Linked DNA regions of Homo sapiens: all the other regions are linked to region 3. The links come from fine-mapping of genetic effects on gene expression. A gene starts in region 3. Each other region holds a variant in brackets. All regions are shown on one strand. Distances are between the middles of the regions.

Region 1 (8,183 bases), 46 kb before region 3:
AAAGGATAAGTGCTTGAGGCTCCTATTCCCCGAAACATACCATATACAAAGGGAAGACTTCAGGACAGAGCCAAAAAGTCAGGCACTGTGCCTGGTATGTAAAACTATGTCACCAAGCTTAGTCCCCATCTTAGAGATGAGGTAATAGTCACAGAGACTTTAAGTAACTTGCCAAGGCTACAGAACTGAACCTTCCTAAAGGAGACTTAACTGAGCCCTCAAAACCACCCTGAAATCCTTTTGTCTATCTCAGTTCTCTCCCATTTGTTAGACTAACCATTTTGATCTTCTCCATTCTCCTCCAGCTTCCAATACCACTTCCTCCCTCATTCTCAGATCACATCCTTTCTCAGGAGCTCAAGGAAGAGTAGAGAGGCCACCAGGCAGAATATCTTGGTATTCTGCCCACCTCCTGCAAAATTATCCATAGCTACTCACATATTTTTTCTTCCCAAACACGTATAAGAAGAGTTCTTCTTGTAATCAAAGACTAATCCTTTTAACAGTCTCTGGATAGAACCTGTCTCCCCCAGCCCCTTTCCATCTCCCACTCCCTTTCCCTACACACAAACTCCCTTGAAACACCTACCGGGTTAATCAACCTCTCTTACCTATGTTTTCAACTTCTTTATTTGTATTGACATGCTTCCTTCAGCAACAGGCACATTAAAGTCAAATCAAAATCCTCCCTCCAGGCCAGGCACGGTGGCTCACTCCTGCAATCCCAGCATTTCGGGAGGCTGAGGCAGGAGGACCACTTGAGGTCAGGAGTTTGAAACCAGCCTGGCCAATACGGTGAAACCTCACCTCTACTAAAAATACAAAAATTAGCTGGGTGTTGTGGTGCACTCCTGTAATCCTAACTACTCAGGAGGTTGAGGCAGAAGAATCACTTGAACCTAGGAGGCAGAGGTTGCAGTGAGATGAGATTGCACCACTTTACTCCAGCCTGGGTGATAAAGTGAGACTCCATCTCAAAAACAAACAAACATACAAACAGAAAAAAAACAAAAAAACAAAAAAACAAATCCCCTCCACCCAACATCTTTCTTATCTATCACCCTCTCCCTCTTCTAGTTTCCTTCTCTTCACTGTCAAACTCCCTAAAAATGTGTCTCTACTGTCCAAGTTTCTTCACCTCCCATTCACTTTAAGCTCATTTCAGCATGGTTTCTCATTTCATTACTTCACAGAAGCATTTATACTAAGCTTACCTATCTCTGGGTTGAGAAATCCTAAAAGATATTCTTATTATATTCACTACCCAGTAGTACTGACCCCCATGAAACCGTTTCCTTCCACTGACTCCTATGCCATCCCTCTCTCTGGATTTTCTCCCATCCCTCGAGCTATTTCTTCTCAGTGTCCTTTGCAAGTTTCTTCTTTTACTTCTCCCTTTGGACTTATTCCTAGAATTCTTCTCATTTATAAGCTCTTCTTGAGTGATCCTGCCCATTCCAATGGCTCAACTCAGCAACAACCTCTCTATCAAAGATCTCTCTCTTAATGGCTAGCTGATATACCCAATTGCTTACTGGACAGCTCCCTGTACATGTCCCACACATCTCAAACTCAGCATGCACAAAATGGAACCTGATATTGTATTCTCTTTGAATGCAGTCACTCAAGTTAGAAATTAGAATATCATTCTTGACTCTTCTCTTTCTCACCTCCATATCCAGTCAGTCAGTGAGTTCTGTTGATTCTACTTCCAAAATATTTCTCAGTTCATTCCCTTCTCCATTCCTTAAAGACATCACCTTATACTGGTGTTCATCATTTCTTACCTCAATTATTTAAATATTCTCCCTGCCTCTAGTCTACCTCACTCTCCCCCAACAATGTCTCCACTCTTTTTTCAGGTTGATATTCCTTAAATGTGAATGTACTCATTTCACTTCCCTATATAAGATGCTACAATAGCCCCTACCATATTCAGAATAAAATCCAGACTCCTATTACATTTGGCCCCTGTTTATCTGTCCAGCTCTTTCATCATTATCTTTCCGGAAACACACTCCACCAGTCTTGAGGCACAGTGAACCACCTTCAGTCTCTTCAGTGAGTGATGCCTTCTTGTGCCTACATTTCTGTCCACATGCTGCTCCTTCTGTTTCCAATCCTTATCTTCCCCTTTATTTATTTATTTATTTTTTTTTTGAGACAAGGTCTCATTCTATCACCCAGGCTAGATTGCAATGGTGTGATCCCAGCTCACTGCAACCTCTGCCTCTCGAGCTCAAGTGATCCTCCCACCTCAGCATCCTGAGTACAGGCACACACCCCCACGCCCAACTAATTTTTATATTTTTTGTAGAAATGGGGTTTTGCCACGTTGCCCAGGCTGGTCTTGAACTCCTGGGCTCAAGCAAACTACCTCCTAAAGTGCTGGGATTAGAGGCGTGAGCCACCACGCCCGGCTCCCCTTCATCTTAATGGCTTGAGATTGAGGCAAGCTTGAGCTCTAATTCCAGTCTGTCAGTTCTGTCTTTTCATTTACTTAATAAGGGTTTCCTGGCACTGGGCAAGGTGCTAAGAATACAAGTAGCTACTGCCTAAGGAAGCTCACAGTCTCACAAAGCAGATAAGTACAGAGAACGTCAGAATTCAATGTGAAAGTGCTGTAACAAAAGGAAACTAGAACAGAAGGCTTCCCAGAGGAACTAACTCCTGAGTAAGTACTAAAGGGCATTTCCCACCATATGACATATAGAAAGAGGAAGGGTGTCTGTCTGTGTTGCTGGAGCAGGGTCAGGAGACAGGGAGTAGCAGAAAGATGACCATGCATGGTGGCCATATTGAGTGGGAGGCACTCCTGGGTCATGCAAGCAGAGATGCTGAAACACACAGTACACAGGTAGACCTACAGTGTTGAGATAAAGAGGAAGATGTTGGAGTGGAAAGCAGTCAGTACAGAGATGGCAGCTGAAACCACAAGAACACTACCCCACACTATTACACTGTCAATGATACAATGACACTACTATGGTAATGACAACCCACAGAGAACACAGGTTTACCCCATACTGATGATGTGTTTGACAGAGCTACATACCAGGTTGAAAAGATCTTTTTCTTAGTTTCCTAAAGTACTAGCTATTCAAGGAACAAAATCTATCTGAATCTAAAAGTGACCTAGTTACATACTCTGGGAAATTTGAGAATATATACAGCCTATTTACCCCGAAGTAATTTACAATCCACTGGGAAAACAATGGGTTTTCCATCATCCAATGAAAAATGGGATATTCTGCAATTCAGCACTCGAGGGAGGCTGGACAGGGGAGGAACTGGCTTTGATTGAGATGCTTAGTATATGCTTGTCACAGGAAGGTGGCTTTTAGAGAGCCCCGAGGGATGAATGGACCTTCAGCAGGAGGAGAGAAAACAGCACCATAGGTCCAGAGCCCATAAGAACACTACACCACACTGTGTAGACAGCTTTCTCTTCATGTCTAAGAAAGTTAGTGTGCAGAAATCACAATACTATAAAGAGGTCTCAGGAAGGAGCTTGGGTGGACAGAAGCAGAGGATGCCTGTTGGTGGTATCCAAGGTAAGAATCTGACAAATGGCATAAAGCAAAATGTGCATATTTGCTTGCAATACCCATGGACTTTTTCAAAAATACCAAACTTCTTGCATACTGAAATAACTGCATTGAGTATTTATTTATTTTAGGCTGTGGCTTTCCTATCATAAAATCCAAGTATGTGGTCAGAATAACCTAAGGGTATCTCAAACATTAGCCCTTAATAATCATGATTTGAATCTTCAAACCTTCATATAAGGAAAATAGCCTTCCCAAGGATAGGTTCTAATTAAAATCCTGGAGACTAGATTTTCTTTA[A/AT]TTTTTTTTTTTTTTTTGCTTCTCTATTTCCTAGGCAAAGAAAAGGATACCACTGGACTTCGTAAACTTCTCAAGAGTATTCTCTTGCTCAAGAACAAAACACTCTCCAGAATAATCTAAAATCTACATGGAATAATACAAAAACTATGGGGGGGGAGTTGAATTTCAAGGCCCTTACAGTCCTTGATAAACAATGATGGAATAAATAATGGAAAACATAATCTGTGGCTGCTCAACTAGACAGTTCTGCTAATGACCATAAAGAGAACCCAAACTCTAAAACTTACCTCTGTATTTCCCCTTTACATTGAGTTAGGCTGAAGCAATAGCTCAAATAATCCAAGTTAACAAAAGCCGACAGAGAAGTGATTCAGAGGTAAATGCATTTGTTCATTCATTGACTCATTCAACACTCGCTTGAAACTTATCACATGCCAAGCTCTGTCTAGGTGCTGGAGTACATGGGGAAGAAGCCACGCCCCTGCCTTCATGGAGGTGTCACTCCAAACTCAGCTCAATTTTACAGCAACGTCAAATTACACAAAGGACTTCAACTTATAGTTTTCCTTCCAGAGGTTAGATTGTGACACTTTCATAAAACTTATGTTAGTGTGCTGCTTCTGCTCAGGATTCAGAATGAATAAACTAAAATTCTACCCTTCCTTTAAGAACTACTTAGAAAAAAAAAACTTTATAAATAATATGATGAATTAAGAATCCCATAACTTGGTCATGAGAAATCTCTGATTTTATTTAGTCTAATCTCCTATAAGTGATCCTCCTTATGGAGTATATGTGAAAGATTATCATGTATTAAAACAAGAATCCCAAAAGCATTATACATTAACATTTATTGAATCCGTTTACTAACTCCTCTTTGTTAATAAATTCCACGGGTGATAACAATTACCTGTTCATATGCCCAGAATTTAACAGCTGTCTCAGGAGCAATTTTGATGACGTTTGTACCATTTCCCCTCCAAAGCGAGCGGATACCTCCTTCTTTTACCATCTGTCGAAAGCCACCAAATATGTTCATTTTGTCTGATTTTGAACCGTGAACCTAAAAATAAAAGCAGAATGATATAAAATGCTGGTGGCATATTACTATTACTTTTTCTAGAACAACCACACAATCTTTTTCAATACCCTTTCTAACTGCAAGAAGATATATTTGAAAATAAAATATAGAAAGGTTGAAAAATATATATAATGATGAGAGGGAGTATTGCCATGATTTTAGAGGCCTGTCTCTGACTCTAAAACTAAGAATAATTGGTATCTTCAGTGTGAGAAAGCAGAGAGAGAAGACAAGAAGAGTATTAAAATTATGAACAACCTTCATAAGATAATATTAACTAAATTATGTATCAGGCAATGGAACACCCTTTGAAACATGAACAGGCTCAGTTAAAGGGAAATAAAAAAGTATACTGCAGATAATAATATTATATTATTACATATAATTTAATGTATGTATATTATTACATATAATTTAAAGTAATATGTTACTCCCTCTCCTCAAGAAGTAGTACAGACATGAACTGTAAATGGGTCTGAAATGGTTTGGATATTGTGTATATCAGGGCTACCAACACTGGAATGCATACAGCCTGAAACCAAAAATAAAAATTGCACCCTCTTTGGCATATTTTGAGGCCCTCTCTAGGCAATAAATTCATTACAACATGTACCCATCCTGTGAGTACTGATAAATTACTTGGCTTATACTACAGATGTGGTAGTCACTTAAAAATACTGTACCTTATGACCACCTACAGATAAAAACTGATTAAGTCCAATACACCAAAAATAATTAAACAAATCAGCTATTCTTCTGATTGTTTCAGCTCACATAAAAGGGGTGACTACCACTAAACACACACACACACACACACACACACACACACACTCACAGAACGGGTTGAATTCTGAAGGCCAGCCATGTGGCCAGTATGAAAACGGGCCCCAATAAGAACTCTGCACACCAAAGGCTCAGGTGAGCTTCCCTGGTTGGTCTGCAATATTCCATGCCTAGTGCCACATAACAGTGCCAGGAAAGTAAGACATGGAGACTCCACAGGGAGAGGACAACAGAAGCTCTGCCCTATGTGCTTCTTTACTTGACTGATTTTCATCCGCATCTTTTCCCCGTAATAAACCATAACCAGGGGTAATAAGCTTTCAGTGAGTTATGTGAGTCTTTCTAGAGAAGTATCAAACCTGAAGGTTGACTTTGGAAACTCCTCAAATTTGCAGAAACTAAATTCCAGAGAAATCCATTTTATTTTAAATAAATAAACTTCACAATAAAATAGGACAAAGGAAAAAATAAATGCTTATTCAAGTTCTCTAAAAGTCAAGTTACTACTGTTCCTAAAGAAAAACACACACCAATCCCCTCTCCTTTTTCTTTAAAGCATTAGCTTTGCCCCTAAATAAATTTTGAGATTTGGGTACATTCTGAAGGAATGCTGGCTTAAAACAGTGTCAGAATCTTTTTGTACAGAAATCTACAGACAAATATAAAAAGTGTTGACCATAAGTATAACAAAGTTTTAAAAATATTTTGTAAACAACTACTATGTTCCAATAGGTTATTCCAGTGTACCAGACATTATCACATACCTGATATTGCTTGATTCTTAAACCATTCTTATTAGATATTCTTATCCCCATCCCAGAATGAAGGAAAATGAGACCTCAGAGGTTTCATGCAGCATGAGAACCAGGAGCACTGGAGGCAAAGATACTGCATTCCCCCTCTCATTTGTTGTAAAGGAAAAGTCAATTCTCTGGGCCTCAGATTCCCCCTGGAAAAATGATAAAATACCTACTTCACTGGGCTGCTGCAAGGATTAACTGGGTTACCACAGTGAGCAAATACATATTAATTCTTTTCCATTCCCTCTTTCCACTCTGGCCAGCCCAATGCTACACTGCTAGTAAATAGCAAAGTCAGTCTATAAAGCCAGATCTTTTTCTGCTAACCTCAGCTTTAGAATAATTTTCAAAATTACATTGCTGCTCTAAGATTCTAGATTTCAAAAATACTTTACTTTTGATAAAGTATATTAAAAAGAAGGAAACTATAAATCAGGAGAATCCTACAACAATAGCTAGAGATATTTTTTGAATTAAATGTTTGAATAGTCATAGAATGCCAAAGATTAAAAGTTCATTACACACATGTACTAACAATTTAAGGTTTGGTACACTGCCATACTTACATGGACTGAATTTAGAGTTAACAGCAACAAAATAGATTTATTTTTTAGGGTATAAAAGATTATTACTGAGAAATTTTAAAACTTCTTTTTCAAAGCACCACATTTCTCATTGTTTTAGAATATTTAGGGCAAACCTGGACACACGATAATAAAGCTCACCTGCATCATGATTTTCAGACGGTCCAAAGGGGCAGTGCTTGTTCGAGAGACAGCACCAGCAATGCCTCCTGCCAAAAGCTGCCTCCACCATTGTCCGGATTTTTTTTCGTCTTCCGTGAATTCATCTGGAATAGTTAAGCTATCCCCTATGTCAATTCCCTGTAAAAATGAAAAAAAGATCCCCATGCGCCTTAGTTAAAAATAATCCCAGAAGACGTTTTGTTTTAGAGAAGAATCATGTTATTTTACAGTTAATATGAACTTCATTCCCTAGAATTTATACTAAACCAATTTGAGTACATAGATTATAAGTTGTCTACTCACAATGAACAAAGTACAGTATCAGTTCACAAGAAATGAAAATAAACAGTAATTACAAATATACAAAACCAACAGTTACAACTTTCTTTCATTCATCATAGATTCACAGTATGTTTTCTCTTGGTCTAGGTTAAAATGAAAGGGCAGCATTTTATCATAGTCAATCTTTTTTATTGCAACCATTTTTCATAAGGCTAGAAAACCAACTGGTGATGACATCTTTTAAGAAATTCGTTCATCAATTCTTAAACAATACTTCCTTTATCTCAAATTTATATCCACATCATATTTATACCATGATATGTTTTAAATATGTAAATAAAAATTAAAACTGTATGTGAATACCCCTAAACTCATTTCCTACTGTTTATAAAAATATTTTTATAAATCTGACTTATCATTTAAAACATGCAATAGATTCTATATAAAATTTAGCTAATGGAGAGGTATTGTTTCAAATCATCACCCCTTCAACCTATTCTACATTACTATAGTTTGAGAGAAACAATTCTATAATAATATTTTTACAATTCTATTATCTAAATTGTTTTGGCAGAAAAATTTTTACAGGCAAGAGTGCAACGGGGAGGAGCTCTCCTATGGTAGTAACCCTCCCTTCCTTCAT
Region 2 (8,183 bases), 34 kb after region 3:
CAAGGGTTAGAGCTGCGAGGCTTTGAGAAAGAACCACGAAAAAGGGGGCTGGGATGCTACAGACCAAACGCTAAGTGAGGCAAACTTTTCTGGGTTCGGGGACATTTTGAATTTCCCATTGACTATAATGGTTTGACCCCCTACCCACACATATCCATCCTCTTGCCATATAGTGGGTGTCAGCAGACATAGGCAATGTAGGAGAGGGACCAGTCCCTTCCTGCAAATTCAGGGGCCACAAGTGCTACAGATCAGCATGTGCGGTTCCTTAGGAAGGCAACACAGGACACGATCCTCACATTACCCACTCCTCCAGTGGGGTTCGGGTGGCACCCCTTAAACAAATTGTTTCCATTTCCACAGGGAGAGGAATACACGTTCTGAGTGGACTAAGAAAAGACTTCCAATGACCTCACGCCAGTCCAGGTCGGTCTCAAGATGGGGACGGGGCCTGCAGACTGGATCCACGTTGCTGTGGGGCTCCTCTCTCTCCTCCCCTCTCCACATCTTCATTCTCTCCAAGGTTTTCTAAGTTTTCTTAAAAATGCCTCATTGTTCTCAGCTCCAACATGGAGATGCCACTGCCCACTTGGGCGTGTCCCTTGATCCCTGAATGGTTTATAGCAGGACAGAGCTTGCTTGCAAAGGGGCAGGGCATACAGCAGGTGCAAGGTCAGTGTGTATTCTAATTGTTTCATGAATCACTGTGATGCTAGAAAAGCATTTGCTTTTTTGAAACTCAGGGAGAAATGCAAAATGGGAAAGGGGCTGGTCCCAGTATGAAAGGCACTTGCAAGGTCAGTGTGTATCCTAATTGTTTCATGAATCACTGTGATGCTAGAAAAGCATTTGCTTTTTTGAAACTCAGGGAGAAATGCAAAATGGGAAAGGGGCTGGTCCCAGTATGAAAGGCACTTACCAAAATAGAATAGAGGCCAACATTTTTGTTGCTAGTTTCTTTCTTTGTGTGTGTGTGACACAGGGTCTCACTTTGTTGCTCAGGCTGGAGTGCAGTGGTGCAATCATGGCTCACTGCAGCCTCAACTAACCAGGCTCAGGTGATCCTTCCACCTCAGCCTCCCAAAAAGCTGGGACTACAGGTGTGTACCCCCATACTCTGCTAATTTTTTTTTACAGATACGGTTTCACCATGTTACCCACACTGGTCTCAAACTCCTGAGCTCATGCGATCCACCTCCTTAGCCTCCCAAAGTGCTGGAATTACAGGCATGAATCAACACACCTGGCATTTTTGCTAATCTCGTTACAACATAATCCAATATACTGGGGGACATCACAGAGTTCCTTGCTCTTACTAGAAGATAATGTAATGGGTAAAACCCCCAACAATCCACATGAAATTCCCAGAATTGAAGTAAAAAAAAAAGAGAATGAGCAAGAAGAAATGAAAATTGGATTTTCTTTTTACACATCCTGTGAAGCTGCTATCTCAAGGGGCGATTGCTCAGAGGAAGGGTTTTCTGGACCTCATGGGGACAGGAACCACTCTGCTTTGCTCATCGGTTAGGCCAGAGCCTCATGAGGGACACTAGTTGTCGATGGTTTTCATGAGAATAGAGCACTGAGACCAAAACTTGATTGACACTACAAACCCACACATGGAGAAAACCACTGGAGCTCTGCAGAGGATGCAAGCCCGGCCACACATAAAGGAAGGGTCGCTGGACTGCGTCAGTGGAGGGAAGACACCTCAGAGGAAGTAGAGCCGCAGTCCCAAATCTTTTTGGCACCCGGGACTGGTTTCATGGAAGACCATTTTTCAGGCACCAGGTTGGGGGGGATGGTTTTGGGATGATTCAAGCACATTCCATTTACTGTGCACTTCATTTCTATAAACATTATATTGGAATATATAATGAAATAATTATACAACTCACCATAATGCAGAATCAGTGGGAGCCCTAAGATTGTTTTCTTGCAACTAGATGGTCTCACCTGGGGGTGACAGTTACTGGGAGACAGTGACAGATCATCAGGCATTAGATTCTCGTAAGGAAAACACAATCTAGATTGCTGGCATGCACAATTCACAATAGAGTTCGAGCTCCTGTGAGAATCTAATGCCACTGCTGATCTGACAGGAGGTGGGATCCAGGCTGAAATGCTCTCCCACCGCTCACCTCCTGCTCTGCGGCCCAGTTCCTAACAGGTCATGGACCCATAATGGCCCATGGCCCCAGGGCTGGGGATCCCTGAAGAAGAGAATCTAGCTTGGGACACAGGAATCATGAAACAGGCCTCCAAATAATTGGGCAAAACTCCCAACATATGTGGATGGCCAGAGAAGAGATAAAGACATGGAATTAGCAAGATAATTTCAGAAAAGAGAGATGCCCTATCTTAAAGAAGGAGGGCTGTTACATAAATTTCTCCAGCTGAGCTACTGTGGCCAGGAATTTGCCATAAGCCCTCACCACTCCCTTCTCTGGCCTGTTTTGATAGCCAAAGCCTGCTCCTGTGAGAAGGAGCCAGGTGACAGAGGAGGCACTTGGAACAGGAGAAGAGGAAGTTCTACCCAGTGGATGTCTGTGCTTAAAACTGGATCCAAGAGCCAGATTCAAAACAAGCTCAGTGTATAGAGCCTGCTGCAGAGATGGTCTGTCTCAGCTGCACAAGTTGCAGGAAACAAAACATACAGAGGCTGCCTGGGAGGACAGTGGAGCTTTGTGATCTCCAGGGTGAAGTACTCACAGGCTACATCCAGAGCAGAGCAGGCAAGCTGATCCTCCAATGAGGACAAGGTGCTGCTATAAGGCTGGTGGCAGTCAGACACGTCATGGTGAACTGAGGGAGTCAAGTAAACTTCATTCACAGAGTCCTCTGGGACTTCCTGCTCCTTCACCTCTGGCAGCTCCTGGCTGAGCCTGGGGTAAAGAAGACAGAAGATAAACACCAGAGAGAACCAACACCCAGCTGGTTCTATAGGGAGGCCCTTAGGAAGGCCCAGAGGAAGCAAAGTACATTCCCCTGAGAGAGATACAACCATCCTTCCCTGTCTCGAGTAGGAGACAGAGCACGACAGGCTCTCAGTGCACTGGGCAGGCAATGAGCTGGGGAGGAAGCAGATGGAGTGATCCCTGCGGGGAACTGCCAGGACACAGTGCATTCGGCACTTTTGCATCCATTTTGTTGAAATTAGCGTCAGTGGCCAAATGAATACAGGCTCTTGAGTCTTCACAGAGTTCCTGTATCCTCAACAGCTCTTGTTCTCAACATTGTAGCATGGCATGATTTATTTTCATTCACTTCCCTGCTATCGAATACTTGCAAACATGGTAATGCCAAAGAGGCAGACATCAGATGTGCAACTCAACTTCACTTTAAGCAAAAAGGACAGAAAAGGGGACTGCAGAAAATGTCTGTGAGTGATCAGTTCAACAGAGTCAACTGAATGCAGATTAGACGAATTGAAAGGAATTAATAAGGAGGAACTAGAAATACAGGTGTACAATGAAAAGAGTCAACCTTATGAATATGGCATTTCATGGTTGGCTGAACAGATGGAACAGGTATATTCAGCACACTCTGATTTTCCCTGCATCTGAGACTCCAGATATCAACACTGAATTAACTGTTCAGGATTCCTCAGAGTTACCTGGGGCATGGTGGGCTTTGGTCTTCTATCTCCTCTTGATCCTTTTTAATTTCTGTAAATAAATTCACAAAGGGACAGACAGATTAAGCAGGTTCTCCTACACACATAAACAATCCACTGTGCAATCCTAACATAGAAATGTCAGTTTCCTCAGTGGGAGAACAGGACACTGTGAGAGAAATATTCCAGGAGGCCTGAGGTCCTGTCATGAGAGAGATGCCTTGGTTTTCTTCCCTGGGCCTAGGAATGCAATCTCCCTGTTCTGGTAGATCATTATCCCAACATCATCTGTCCTGATTTTGTGCAAACAGTTATGCAAATTTTTCACACCAGTTGAAGGCAAATACCCCAGCTGCTTTCTAGAAGGAAAACTGCAATATTCAGCTTTCAATCATCAAATACTCACGTTGTTCATGGTTACAAGGATTTTAGACACTGAAACTAGAATGTAGGAGGGAATCTACAGACCCTTGAATGAAAATGAATCTTTGGTTCAATACAAAGAGACATTGGCTATTCGTGACATCTAGGAGTGACAAGGCCCAATCTTGTTTCTAGAAACATAACAAAAGGTAATGGACTGCTCAGCTAAAACAGGATAACATCAAAGACATAGAGAATGAGGCTAGGTTCTTTGAAACCTGGGTAATATCTTTAA[T/C]GAAAAGTAGACAAAAATGCCACAGGCGTTGGGCAGGCATAGAATCTCACAGGACATGGTTGGGGAAAGGAACTTGTAAGGAACACGATAGCTGGCAAGACAAATCTTATTCAGATTAAGAGGCCTGACAGACACCTGTTGGGCACGTGCTGCATAGGTTGGTGTGAATTTGTCAATGTCGTGACAGTGGGCGCAGGGTGACACAGGCATGGTCTGAGATGAGGAAGAGAGCAAAGCTCACTGACCCACCCCTGTCTGTGCTTCCAACTTGATTTTTGATGCTGATGCAAATCATCCTGTGTCTGTGAGTCACGCCCACACCAATGACACATCTCAGTCCAGCCAGGGATGTGAAGTGCAAGGATTACGGAGTCTACCTGGGACACCAATTGGAGATTTATCATGTTCACAATGGAGTACTCACTGTCTACAAGAGCCAAGCTGACTTGCTTGTCTTCAAAAGAGTACAAAGTGCTCCAATAAGGGTGGTAGGAGGGAGTCAGGTCAGGAAGGATGGAAGGAGTCAAGCAACATCCATCCAGTGACTCCTGGGGGATTTCATGCTTGTCCACTCTCAGCGGTCCCCTGCTGAGCCTGTAGGGTAAGAAGGACTAAAGATTAATCCAAGGAGTTTCAGAGCCCTAGCTGGATTTCACGTGAGGCATGAGGGAGTGATCGCAGAAAACAAATGGGTCAACCCATTAAACAGTTAAATATTCTCCTCTTCTTGGTGGGCACAGTGTGGTTGCCATGGGTAGGTTGCAATACAGAGAGAGGGAAAGAGAGAGATGAGAGAGAGAGAAGCATCAGGTGCTCAGCAAAGTAGCCAGATTATGATTTTCTGAGGAAGGAGACTGAGTCTCTCTGTATGGTAGAGTCGTGACTTACTGAATATCATGTCCTATAACAGTGGTTTCATTCCTTTCTTTTAAATGATGTTAAATTTTATGTGTAGTGGCCAAGTAAACATAGGTTTTGAGGCATAATCGTATCCCCGAAATCGCATGGCATCAAGTCCTCTTTCTCTCAATATTGTGCATGGTATAACAATAATTTTTTTCTACCTAATTTCCTTGCCTTGAAATGCTCACCACTGTGCTAATGCAAAACCAGCAGAAAGCAGATATGCATCTCAGGCTGGTTGACACCATAAGAAGAGTATACTTACTTTAAGGAAATCTGTGTGACTGATTAGTTGTTCACAAGGTCAAGTGGTTTGATGTACTGAACTTAAGAAGTTAATAAGAAATGCAAACATTAAAAGTTTCACAATGAAAATGTAAAACATGGTTAAAAAAGATCATTTCCGGTTGGCTGAAGGGATGAATTAGGTATATTCAGGACTTTCTGGTTTTCTGTGGAGATGAGTTTCACAGATATCACCCCTGAATAGACAGCCCCTGATTTTTCTCAATTACCTGGGAGCAACTGTTTCTTGTCCTTTCACCTCTTCAAGATCACTTTGCTTTTCTGTAAATAAATTAAGAGAAGACCAGCCAGGTGAACCTGATCACATTCACACATGCACAACCTTGTGTCCAAATCTACATAGGGGCATAAATACACGCAGTGCGAGAACAGGCTATTGTGAGAGAAACTTTCCAGGAGGTCTCAGGGTGAGCCTTGTGAGAAGTCACTAGGTTTGCTTTCCTGAGTCATGGAGCAAATCTCCCTGATCTGACAGGTCATCATCACAGTCCCTTCTGTCTTGAGTCACAGCAAACTGTTAACCATATCCTGTTTACTAACAGATCCTGGGGATCTACTTTAATGCTTCTTAGCAGGTTACTGCAGTATTCAGCATGTTTCCTTCTGATAAGCTGTTGTCAGTGTTTTTGTAGAATTTGCATTTAGAGGGACAGATTAAATCAAAAGAATCTCTAATGCTACATGGAAACATTGGCCTTTCATATGGCAGGGAGTTCCAGGGCCCGGCCTCCTTTCAGAGAAACATACAAAATTTAATAGTGGTGTTCATGTTCTGGTACTCAGAGACTTCTTAGCTAAGACAAGCCTACTAAAAGGGGAGGGAGTCTAGCCTGAGAGAAGTGAACGAGGGAAATGACAGCTCCAAGAATATCGATAAGGCTGCCAGTGGCCTTGGACAGGCAGAGAAACTCAGGTTGTTTGGGAGGGAAAATTAGATTTCATGTGAGATGACAGATTAAATCTAAATCAGGAGGACTGGTAGATACACCCTGCACCCAGGCTGCAGAGGTGGGTATGAATTTGTCAGGTCAACCTTGGGTACAGTGATCTGCCAATGGGGCAATGATGAAAGACAATGTGTGGTTTTGGACTAGAATGGAGCACAACTCTGACTTATAGGATGCCTTCCTTCAAACTCAATCCTAGAGCCTGGTTCTAACCAGTATATAAGCATAGAGTCTTCCTGAAGGTATGACATCCGTCACTATGGACAAATCTGGGGTACAAACAATAGGGAGCCTACCGAGGAAGCCAAGTGAGGTTTCATCCCATTTGGGATTGGAGTAATCCCTGGCAACATCCTGAGCGGAGCAAACTTTCTGTTCATCCAATGCCAAGAAAGAGACTTCACGATGCCGGTAAGAGTTGGACTTGTCATGGTGTCTAGAATGAGACAAAACACATTTCTCTGGCAAGTCCTGCAGGACTCCCTTCTCTTCAGAATCCTGCAGCTTTCTGATGAGCCAGGTAGGATAGAACGACAGAAGGTTAGACCAAGACAGATTCAACACCATAGTATCTCAGGTGATTTGATAGGACACAAAGGGTGTGGTCACAGAAAGCAAAGGAGGGTCTCCTCCAAGAGAGAAAAATCTATCCTTCTAAATGTGGGGTGGAGTGTGACTGTCCTGGAGACAGAGCAAACATGAGCAGCAGGTGCTCAGTGCACTTGCCACAAACGAGCGGCTGCAGGAGGACCCAGACTCTCCCTGTAAGCTAGCATCAAGCATCATGACTTGCAGCACTGAGAACTAAGCTGGGACTTCACTTCCTTTACACAAATTGCGTTGACATTACATGCAGCATCCAAGTGAACACAGCTCTTGAGGCATTCCCAACGCACAGATCCTGTGTTTTTAAGGTCCCCCTTTTTTTTCAATATTTTGACATAATATGAAATTTTTATTTTTAATTTTCTCGATTGCATTCAAATACTTGCCAACATGCTGTCACAAAACATACAGAAAGCATATATGCATCTCACCCTGGATTAGCCACATGGGAGACCACAGGTGAGATCAGGAAATCCCTGAGGTTGGTCAGTTCACCTGGTTCAAGTGATTGTCGGTTCCTATGCTTGAGAGGGATTAAGAAATTGAAACCTATTCAAGTACCACAATAAAGAAGACAACATTGTTAAAGGGGCAATTTGCACTTGGATGAATGGATGAGACAGTTCTATTCGTCACTTCCTATTTTCCCTTGATCCGTGGTGTCCAGATGTCACTATTGAACTAACAGCCCACAAATCCACAGTTACCTGGGGGGCACTGGCGCTTTCCCCTCCTCCTCCTCATGGTCATTTTGATTTTCTGTAAACAAATTCAGAAGAGCAGGTCACAGTAAGGAAATCACACAAGAGCAAATAAGTGTCCAGTCATAGCACAAGAACATAAATATCCTCAGTGTAAGAATGTGACATTTTGACAGGATCATTCTGACTTATTTTCAGAAGTAGATGTGCCTGCTTTCCAGACCCATAGGACAAAATCTCCCTCATCTGGTAGATCATAATCACCTATCCTCTGACCTAAGTCTGTGCAAACAATTAAACAAAACTTTTTCCCCAAGATTTTCAAAAATTGCCCTAACCACTCTCCAGAAGTGTTGTTGCAATACTGATTTATCTCATCATATATCATGGTCAACGAATGGTTAGAGAAATTTGTATAGGAGACTGAACTGATGGATAAATTCTAA
Region 3 (8,183 bases):
CTACTAGAAAATACAAAAGTTAACCAGGTGTGGTGGCATGTGCCTGTAATCTCAGCTGCTTGGGAGGCTGAGGCACAAGAATCGCTTGAATCCAGGAAGCAGAGGCTGCAGTGAGCCGAGATCGCACCACTGCACTCCAGCCTTGGTGATAGAGCAAGATTCTGTCTCCAGAAAAAAAAAAAAAAAGCAATATTAATGAAATAAAAATGAAATGAACCCTCTTTGTTAACAGAGGAATTACTTAATGGAGTGAAATCCTGATTCCACTCAATGCAATAAACATTTGCTAAGCTACTATTCTTCTATGTGACTATTTTTTCTGTGATTGTAAATGTAAAAACTTAAAGACAGAATTAAAAAAATCATAGAATGTAAGAGTTAGAATGGCCCTTAAATCAGGTTACCAGTCCACCCACTCCTCTAACATTGGGTGATCATTCAGCATACACTTCATACCCATGGGCACAGAGGTTCCTCAAGAAGTTCACCAGCTAGTAAATGGGATACCACATTTTAAAGGGTTTTTTAACATGAACTTTCATATTCTGCAACATATGACCTTGTTAAAAGCTCTGTCCAGGATGCAGGCAAGATATCTGCATTTTAAGAATAAGAAAGTAAAGCTCCAGTAAGGCTCAAACTTGACAAGGATTACACGGTCAATTTACACCAAGGACGGAACTCTCTTGTAGCTTGCTGCTTCCCTTCTTGCTCTTGATAATTGTCCTAGTCCAACTGGGCTGCTATGACAAAAATACTATTGGCTTACTTAAAAAATAAGCATTGATTTCTTGCAGTTCCAGACACTGGAAGTCCTAGATCGAAGTGCTAGGAGATTTACTGTCTAGTGAGGACCCACTTTCCGGTTCCATGGACCACTGTTTTCTCACTGTGTCCTCACATGGTGGAAGGGGCAAGGAAGGTCTTCCAGGTCACTTTTATACAAGCACTAATCCCATTCATGAAGGCTCCACAGGAAGAAAGAAGATGGGGGTAGAAGGAGGAAGACAAGAGGGAGAAGGAGGTGCGTAAAGAGAAAATAACTGAAGACTTTTAAAAGGAAATAGGATTACTAGACAAGTATAAGAGAATTAGTAATGGTTAAATACTGTATCTCCTTGTTCTCACACTACATTCTACTCTCAGTCTATACCCTTATACTACTGAGTCCTAGGAGAACTTAATGTGAATTTTCTCTAATTTTTAACTTTAATTTTTCACTAATTTCATAGTGAGGAGATTTGGAACATACAGAAAAGAAAGGTCATACCAGAAAAAAAAATGTAGCGCTTTCACTTCCAATTGGTTCTTAATTTTGTCTCAGGACTTGCCTTGAATTCTTTTCTCTTCCCTGGATAATTCTGGAACACTTAGTAATGGTTAGCTATTATATTCCTTATACCTATTTCTACATTCTACTCTTATTTCTACATTCTTTCCATCTAAAATCTAAAGAAACTTAAACAGAAATTTGTTCTCTTCTAAATGCTCAATTCATTACAAATGCTTGGAAACACGGAGATGAGATCAAATCAGATGAAAATTTATAGAGATTTTGCTTCAAGCTGAGTATTTGGCTTAGATACAAACTACTACCTTGAAACTTTCCACCGAAGAGTCACCCCACAGTTCTCATTTCTATGCTCAAGTAGCCAATGTCCTCACTCCTTGACATTACATAAACCCCTGACATGCCTCTGAAATTTTCTCCCATAAAGGTTGACTGTGTAATCCTAATTCTATCCCATGTGTGATGGTTAATTTTATGTATCAACTCGTCTGGACTAAGGGATGCCCAGATAACTGGTAAAACATGATTTCTGGGTGTGTCTGTGAGGATGTCTCTGGAGGAGGGTAGCATTTGAATCAGTAAACCAATTAAAGAAGACTGCCCTCACCAAATGGGTAGGCATAATGCAATCCTGTGGAGGATGTGAATAGAACCAAAAGGCAAAGCAAGTGCTACGTTTTGTTTGTCCCCACAAAAACTCATGTTGAAGTCTGATCCCTGATGTGGCCGTGTTGGGAGGAGGGACCTAGCAGGAGGTGTCAGGGTTACGGAGGCAGATCCCTCATGAATGGCTTGGTGTCATTCTTGCAGTAGTGAGTGAGTTCTCTCTCTCATGAGACTGAATTAGTTCCCTCAGTAATGGATCAGTTCCCTCGAGGCTGGGTTGCTATAAAGCCAGGACACCCCTCGGATTTTGCTTCTTCACACATGTCCACTTCCACTTTGACTTTCCACCATGTTGTGACACAGCAGGAAAGCCCTCCCCAGGAGTCCAGCAGATGCCAGCACCACGCTTCTTAAACTTCCCAGCCTGCGGAACTGTGAGCTAAATAAATGTCTTTTCTTTATAAATTACCCTGTCTCAGATATTCCACTATAGCAACACTAAATGGACTAAGACAGGAAATGAAAAGGAATTTCACCTGCAGAATAGGAGACTTTACAAAGACTGATACCCTGAATGAGCGAGGATGTGGAGAAGCAAGCACTGTCAGTCAAAAGAGTGAAAATGGGTCTAAGGTTTCCGAAAGGCAATACGTATCCCAGTTTAAAATGTGTGTTACCTTCAGACTCAGCAATGTCCACTCCTCAAAATTTATCTTACGAAAGTAACTGGACCAGAATGAGAAAATGAATACAAAGGACATCCATTGCAATTTCACTTACAATCGTTTTTAAACTATCAATAAAGTAAAAGGTGATTTAAAAAGAATTGGTAACATATACTATGACACAAACATATAACAGAATATGATGCAGTTACGTAAAAATGGTGATACAGCAGCAATTCTCAAGCTTTTTGATCTCAGGATCCCTTTACAATCTTAAAAATCATTGAGCACTCCAAAGAGCTTTTGTATATTGTAGGGACCATGGAGTTGTACCACTGAGATCTCCCTTCAAAGGCACCTACTGTGAGGAACACAGTTGACTTCCACTCTCTAGCCTCTAACCCTGGCATCTGCTGATGCACTGCAGCAAGGTCGTCCCTTTCCTGGGCTGCTTCCAGCCAATGATTGGACATGGTGGGGAACTCCAACTGGGCCATTTCTGGGACAATCAGCACAAAGTACCAAAAGTTGGTTCCTTCAAAGTATGAATAAAATACACAAAACTTTGGCAAGATTGAAGGGGAGAAAAGGATAGATATGAGGAATGAAATAGAGAACCTACCTACAGATTCAGTCAGAAGTGTTATAAAATCATCGGTGAGTATTATGAACCTTGGACAGAACAGGCAGTTTCAAAAAAAATTGTAACTTACTAAATCTGACTCTAGAAGAAACAGTAAACTGAAGAGGCCTATAACTACCAAAGACATTAAAAGAGAAGTGAAATATAACTATATAACAGTTGTTGGCCCTCATAGTAACCTAATCACTTTCCCTCTTTGGATAAGAGAATGCCAGTGTCAGGGAACGCTTCAACAGGGTTGGAGAAGTTCCACATATCTCCACCCTACTAAAGGGGCAGAAGTTCAGGGGCACAGTTAAGATGACTCAGAGAAAATGAAATTGCTCAGTCGCAGGTCAAGTCAACCCTTCAGATCAATTTATGTACCTAGGGCATTAACCTAGGAATGTCTTAAACAATGGAATGCCGCCATTCCTTCTCAACAGGAAGTGGGGGAAACACGCGATTGGTTTTCAAACAGTTTTCAAACAGTAGACAATACACATAGCTGCTGTAACAAAGCAGCTTCGAAAGAGATCGAATGTGTGCGCCTTTATACAAAACTTGGGACCCACTGAAGTCTGACAGCTAAAACGGATTACATGTCTGCAAGGTATTAAAACAGAAAACAAAGAACCTGGGATGGATTCAGGACAAAAGTGTCTTAAAAATTTAACAGTGCCCGTGGGCCAGAGTGTCCACAACACTCATTTTATCTGGACAAATACCAGTAGACTTTCGTATTATGACCCACTTCTGTTACCGGGGTCGCCGGTCGCGGCCCCACGCCCGAGTTTCTGAAGCCACCGGAGCGCTGGGCGCCACAGTTCCTCCTTCCTCTCCTGGCAACGCCTCAAGCCGCCGCCCTCCTCGGTCCTCGCAGTGTCCCCAGCGCCCGCAGCCCTCCCTACGCTCAGGCGGCGCCCCGGCGGCGACCCACCTCCTCGGCGTCCTGGCCCAGAGGGATGCCCAGGTTCCTGAGCCCCTCCTGCAGCTCGCCGATGTCCACCACTCCGTCCCCATTGCGGTCCAGTGCCTGGAAGAGGGTCTCGTAGCGCGTCGGCTGCTCCGCGTCCTGGCAGGCCGCGGTGGGCAGCACGAAGTCCCGCAGCCAGCGCAACATGGTCCCAGAGGCGCAGGCGGCCTGGCCGAGGAAGTCACGGGAGATCGAGGGCTGCGGGGCGAGACCGGGACCAGCGCGAGGCCGGGCTGGGCGGGGCGCGCGGCGCAACAGCGTTTGGGGCGCCGTCGGGGTTGCGGCTGCGGCGCGCAGGGCGCAGGGCGCAGGAGCGGAGACCCCACCCGAGCCCGCGCGGAGCGCAGGGTGTGGCCGTCCCGCCGCTGCTGGGGAGGAGCTCGCCGCGCTGGCCTCGGCGGCACTGGCCGGGCCCGCCTCCAGAGAGCCGGAAGTGAGGGAGCTGGGAGCTGGGTCTCGGGAGGTGCTGTGCGGACCCGGGGTCGACCTCTGCCCAGTTGCCAGTCCCGCTGTCAGCATGCGGGTCCGAGGAAGAGGCCCCCAGCAGGTCCAGGGCTGCAGCGTCAGCGCGTCGGTGGCTTGGGAGCGGGGTCTTGAAGACTGGTTACTCCACTTAAAGACCCTCTCGGGCCGGAGCCTTGGCGGTCAGCCCAGAGCTGCTTCTCTCTGCCTGGAAACTGGGCCATGGAGGGCATTGTCTCTCACGGATGTCTAATTTTTTCGTGGTTGCACACCTGGGATGGCGATTCTGCTTTAAAAAGCAGAGAGTTAAATCCTAAAGCATCTATTGGAGCAATTATAAAACAAAAAGGAGAAACTCCTGGATTTGTTGCAGAAAAGATCAACAGCCATCTGCGTGGGCAACGGGGAAAAGAAGGACTAGTTTGGTAGGCAGCTTAGCTAGGATTTGCCCGTGATTAAGCGTATAGAGTGTCTGCCAGCTGCACTTATCAGAAAAAACCACAGCGCCCTCCTCCTTCTCAAGATGGGTGCAGTTCCGAGGTTTGGAGCTTATTACTCAGGCAAGACAGAACTTATTACTGCCTAGCATGGAATAACGGAAGGAACATTGGACTTAACAGAGAAAGTACCTAATCCTTCAGGTGTGACATAGCGTCTCCGGGTAGTCTCTCATCAGTAAAATGAGAATATAAATATCTGCCTTCACAACAAAGTTGTATATTAGGTGTGAAAGGTCTTAATTCTCTAAGGCGCCAATCAAATGAGATATCATTAATTGTAATAATCCTGTTCATTCACAGCTGCGTAAGAGGAACTATTGTTGTACTGCTGTTTGCAGAAAAGAAGATACCTCTGTACTTGTAAATTAGGGTGTCTCACATCTTCTGAATCACTACACAGAAATCAGTTCCAACAACAGCCAGGAACTCAGACCCTGAACTTACCTCTCCTCATATCATTTTGTATGTTTAAGATATGTATGAATCTAGAATTTGTAAATTAAGGGCTGCCTGCTTAGTAAAATCATCTTGAAACTGATTTATCTTTTTATATTACTTCCAACTTCCAGTCTTATTAAGAATCATTGCCTTCCTTTGGAACTGCCTTCAAACTTCAAATTTTCTCTGTCCTTGAAAACCTCTTTTAATCTCTACTCTGAATACTCTGTACTTGAAGAGAGGTTGCTTGAACTAGTCATCTTACACTTACATGCTTTCATTTTACTTTTTATTTATTTCTTTTTTTTTTTTTTTTTTCTTTGAGACAGTCTAGCTCTGTCGCCCAGGCTGGAATGCAGTGGCACAATCTCAACTCACTGCAACCTCCGCCTCCTGGGTTCAAGCTATTCTCCTGCCTCAGCCTCCTGAGTAGCTGGGGCTACAGGCTATTTTACTTTTTTAAAAAAGTAATACTTAGAAAAATTACCTGTCAGCGTTTTTGCTGAGAAAATTATCTTCACACCAAAACTTTTACTTGAGGGTTTATAGCAGTTCTATTCATAACTGTCAAGCGCAGAAACAAAATGTTCTTTAACGGGTGAACTGGTAAACAACCTGTGTTGCATTCATACAGTGAGATAGTAATTAGCAATAAAAAGGAATGAATTACTGATACCTGTCAACAATGACATTCTGGAAAAGGCAAAACTATAGGGACAGAAAACAAATCAGTAGTTACCAGTTGTGACTAGCGGGAAGGGAATTGATGACAAAAGAGCATCAGAAGGCTTGTGGGGGTGATGGAGCTATTTTACATCTTGCTTTTGGTGGTAGTGGTTACACAACTGCATGTGTGTGCCAGCAGAACTGCACACTAACATGGGTTAATTTACTCTGGGATATCAATAAATCTGACTTAAGCATGAGTAAAATGGAATAAAAATTCTCAAAAGATCAGTGTGAACATCAAAACAGTTTATGAATAGTTATGAAGTATGGGCCACACACCAGCAGCATTGGTGTCACATCAGTGTTACTGTGAAAATCAAAGCGTTTATGAAGTGTGGGCCACAGACCAGCAGCATCAGTGTCACTTGGGAGCTTGTCAGAAATAATCTCAGGCCTGCCCAAGCCCACTAAGTAAGAATTGCACTTATACAAGAACCCTGGATGAGCATTTCATAAAGTTTGAAAAGCACAGCTAGTATGAAGCAAACCACTCGAAGTGCAACCTGTTACCTGTCTGCAATGAGTCAGACATTGAGAGGAAGGATTTAGAAACTTTATAGCAATTTGATAAAGTAATTTTGTTATATCTAATAATAAAACTCAGAGCTTGTCTTTTTAATTTCAATTTTCTAGTATTGCATTTTTACTGTATTTTACGACACTATGTCTGCAAGGAATCGAGATAACACCATGAAGATAAAAGGTGTAATTAACACTAGCAACTTCCTGCATAAGAGAAGAAACCTTTACATGGACATTTACACATCTGGACGAAAGAAGGCACCCCTGCTTAATTCTACTGGCAATTCCCAAAGACCAGTGGTTCCTAGAGGGCAGTAGTAGAAACCCAGAATTCACACTTCCTTAATTCATTTCCTTGGTCAGAACAGAAGTCTAGGGTTCAGCCCAATTTAGCTACTTCTATTGTCCCCAACTTCTGGCCTTCTAATGTACTACCATTTTCCACTGGAATAACCTTCAGACTTGACCAGTTTCAGTCCTTGAAGACCTCTTTCAGCACCTACTTTGGAATCTTTTCATAATCATTCTGGATTTGGCTAGTTTTAGTTGATAAACACATTTCTTCTTTCTATCCACTGAATCACTTACTTATTGTGTAGTGCTAATAAGACCAAAGAATCTGCCTCTCCACAAGGAACAATTCTATTTCAAAATCCTTCAAGAATATTCAGAAAGGAAAAAAAGATCCTGGTCATTGCTCCCTCAAATTTGAGTAATCACAGCTTAGGCTCTGTAAGAGAATTTGATTGGTTCAGTGTAAAGCCATAACCATTACTGGAAGGATAATTTTTTTTCATTGTACTTTAAGTTCTGGGATACATGTGCAGAATGTGCAGGTTTGTTACATAGGTATAAATGTGCCATGGTGGTTTGCTGCACCCATCAACCCATCACCTACATTAGGTATGTCTCCTAATGCTATCCCTCCCCTCCCCACTCCCTCCCCTCCCCACCCCCAACAGGCCCCGGCATGTGATGTTCTCCTCCCTGTGTCCATGTGTTCTCATTGTTCAACTCCCACTTATGACTGAGAACATGCGGTGTTTGGTTTTCTGTTCCTGTGTTAGTTTGCTGAGAATGATGGCTTTCAGCATCATCCATGTCACTACAAAGGACATGAACTCATCCTTTTTTATGGCTGCATACTATTCCATGGTATATATGTGCCACATTTTCTTTATCCATTCTATCACTGATGGGCATTTGGGTTGGGTCCAAGTCTTTGCTGTTGTGAATAGTGGTGCAATAAACGTGCATGTGAATGATTTATAATCCTTTGGATATATACACCCAGTAATGGGATTGCTGGGTCAAATGGTATTTCTGGTTCTAGATCCTTGAGGAATCACCACACTGTCTTCCACAACGGTTG

Direction of the effects. Positions count from the first base shown, and alleles are read on the strand shown. Sizes are in standard deviations (SD) of each study's normalised expression. Not every link is listed here.
In carriers of allele A in region 1, the expression in lymphoblastoid cells of the gene that starts at base 4,512 in region 3 tends to be lower than with AT alone (moderate effect, 0.50 SD a copy in TwinsUK).

Evidence for each region. PIP is the estimated chance that this variant, and not a neighbour inherited with it, causes the effect.
Region 1: its variant is fine-mapped to the expression of SLC25A24 in lymphoblastoid cells (TwinsUK, PIP 0.95).
Region 2: its variant is fine-mapped to the expression of SLC25A24 in cerebellum (GTEx, PIP 0.98).

The regions. Positions count from the first base shown.
Region 1 is chr1:108,150,225-108,158,407 of GRCh38, forward strand. SLC25A24 (solute carrier family 25 member 24) reads right to left here. Exons shown (of 10, transcript NM_013386.5): 5 at 7,238-7,396; 6 at 4,759-4,911. Among named protein-coding and RNA genes, the nearest start is that of SLC25A24, 46 kb to the right of the region's middle. The variant A/AT (reference allele first, on the strand shown) is at 3,849.
Region 2 is chr1:108,229,544-108,237,726 of GRCh38, forward strand. It overlaps NBPF4 (NBPF member 4), which reads right to left. Exons shown (of 15, transcript NM_001143989.3): 7 at 7,744-7,795; 8 at 6,727-6,866; 9 at 5,693-5,744; 10 at 4,699-4,868; 11 at 3,617-3,668; 12 at 2,713-2,885. Among named protein-coding and RNA genes, the nearest start is that of NBPF4, 10 kb to the right of the region's middle. The variant T/C (reference allele first, on the strand shown) is at 4,275.
Region 3 is chr1:108,195,832-108,204,014 of GRCh38, forward strand. SLC25A24 (solute carrier family 25 member 24) reads right to left here and starts at 4,512. Exons shown (of 10, transcript NM_013386.5): 1 at 4,125-4,512. The coding sequence starts at 4,307. RefSeq lists a silencer at 4,296-4,635 and an enhancer at 4,436-4,730.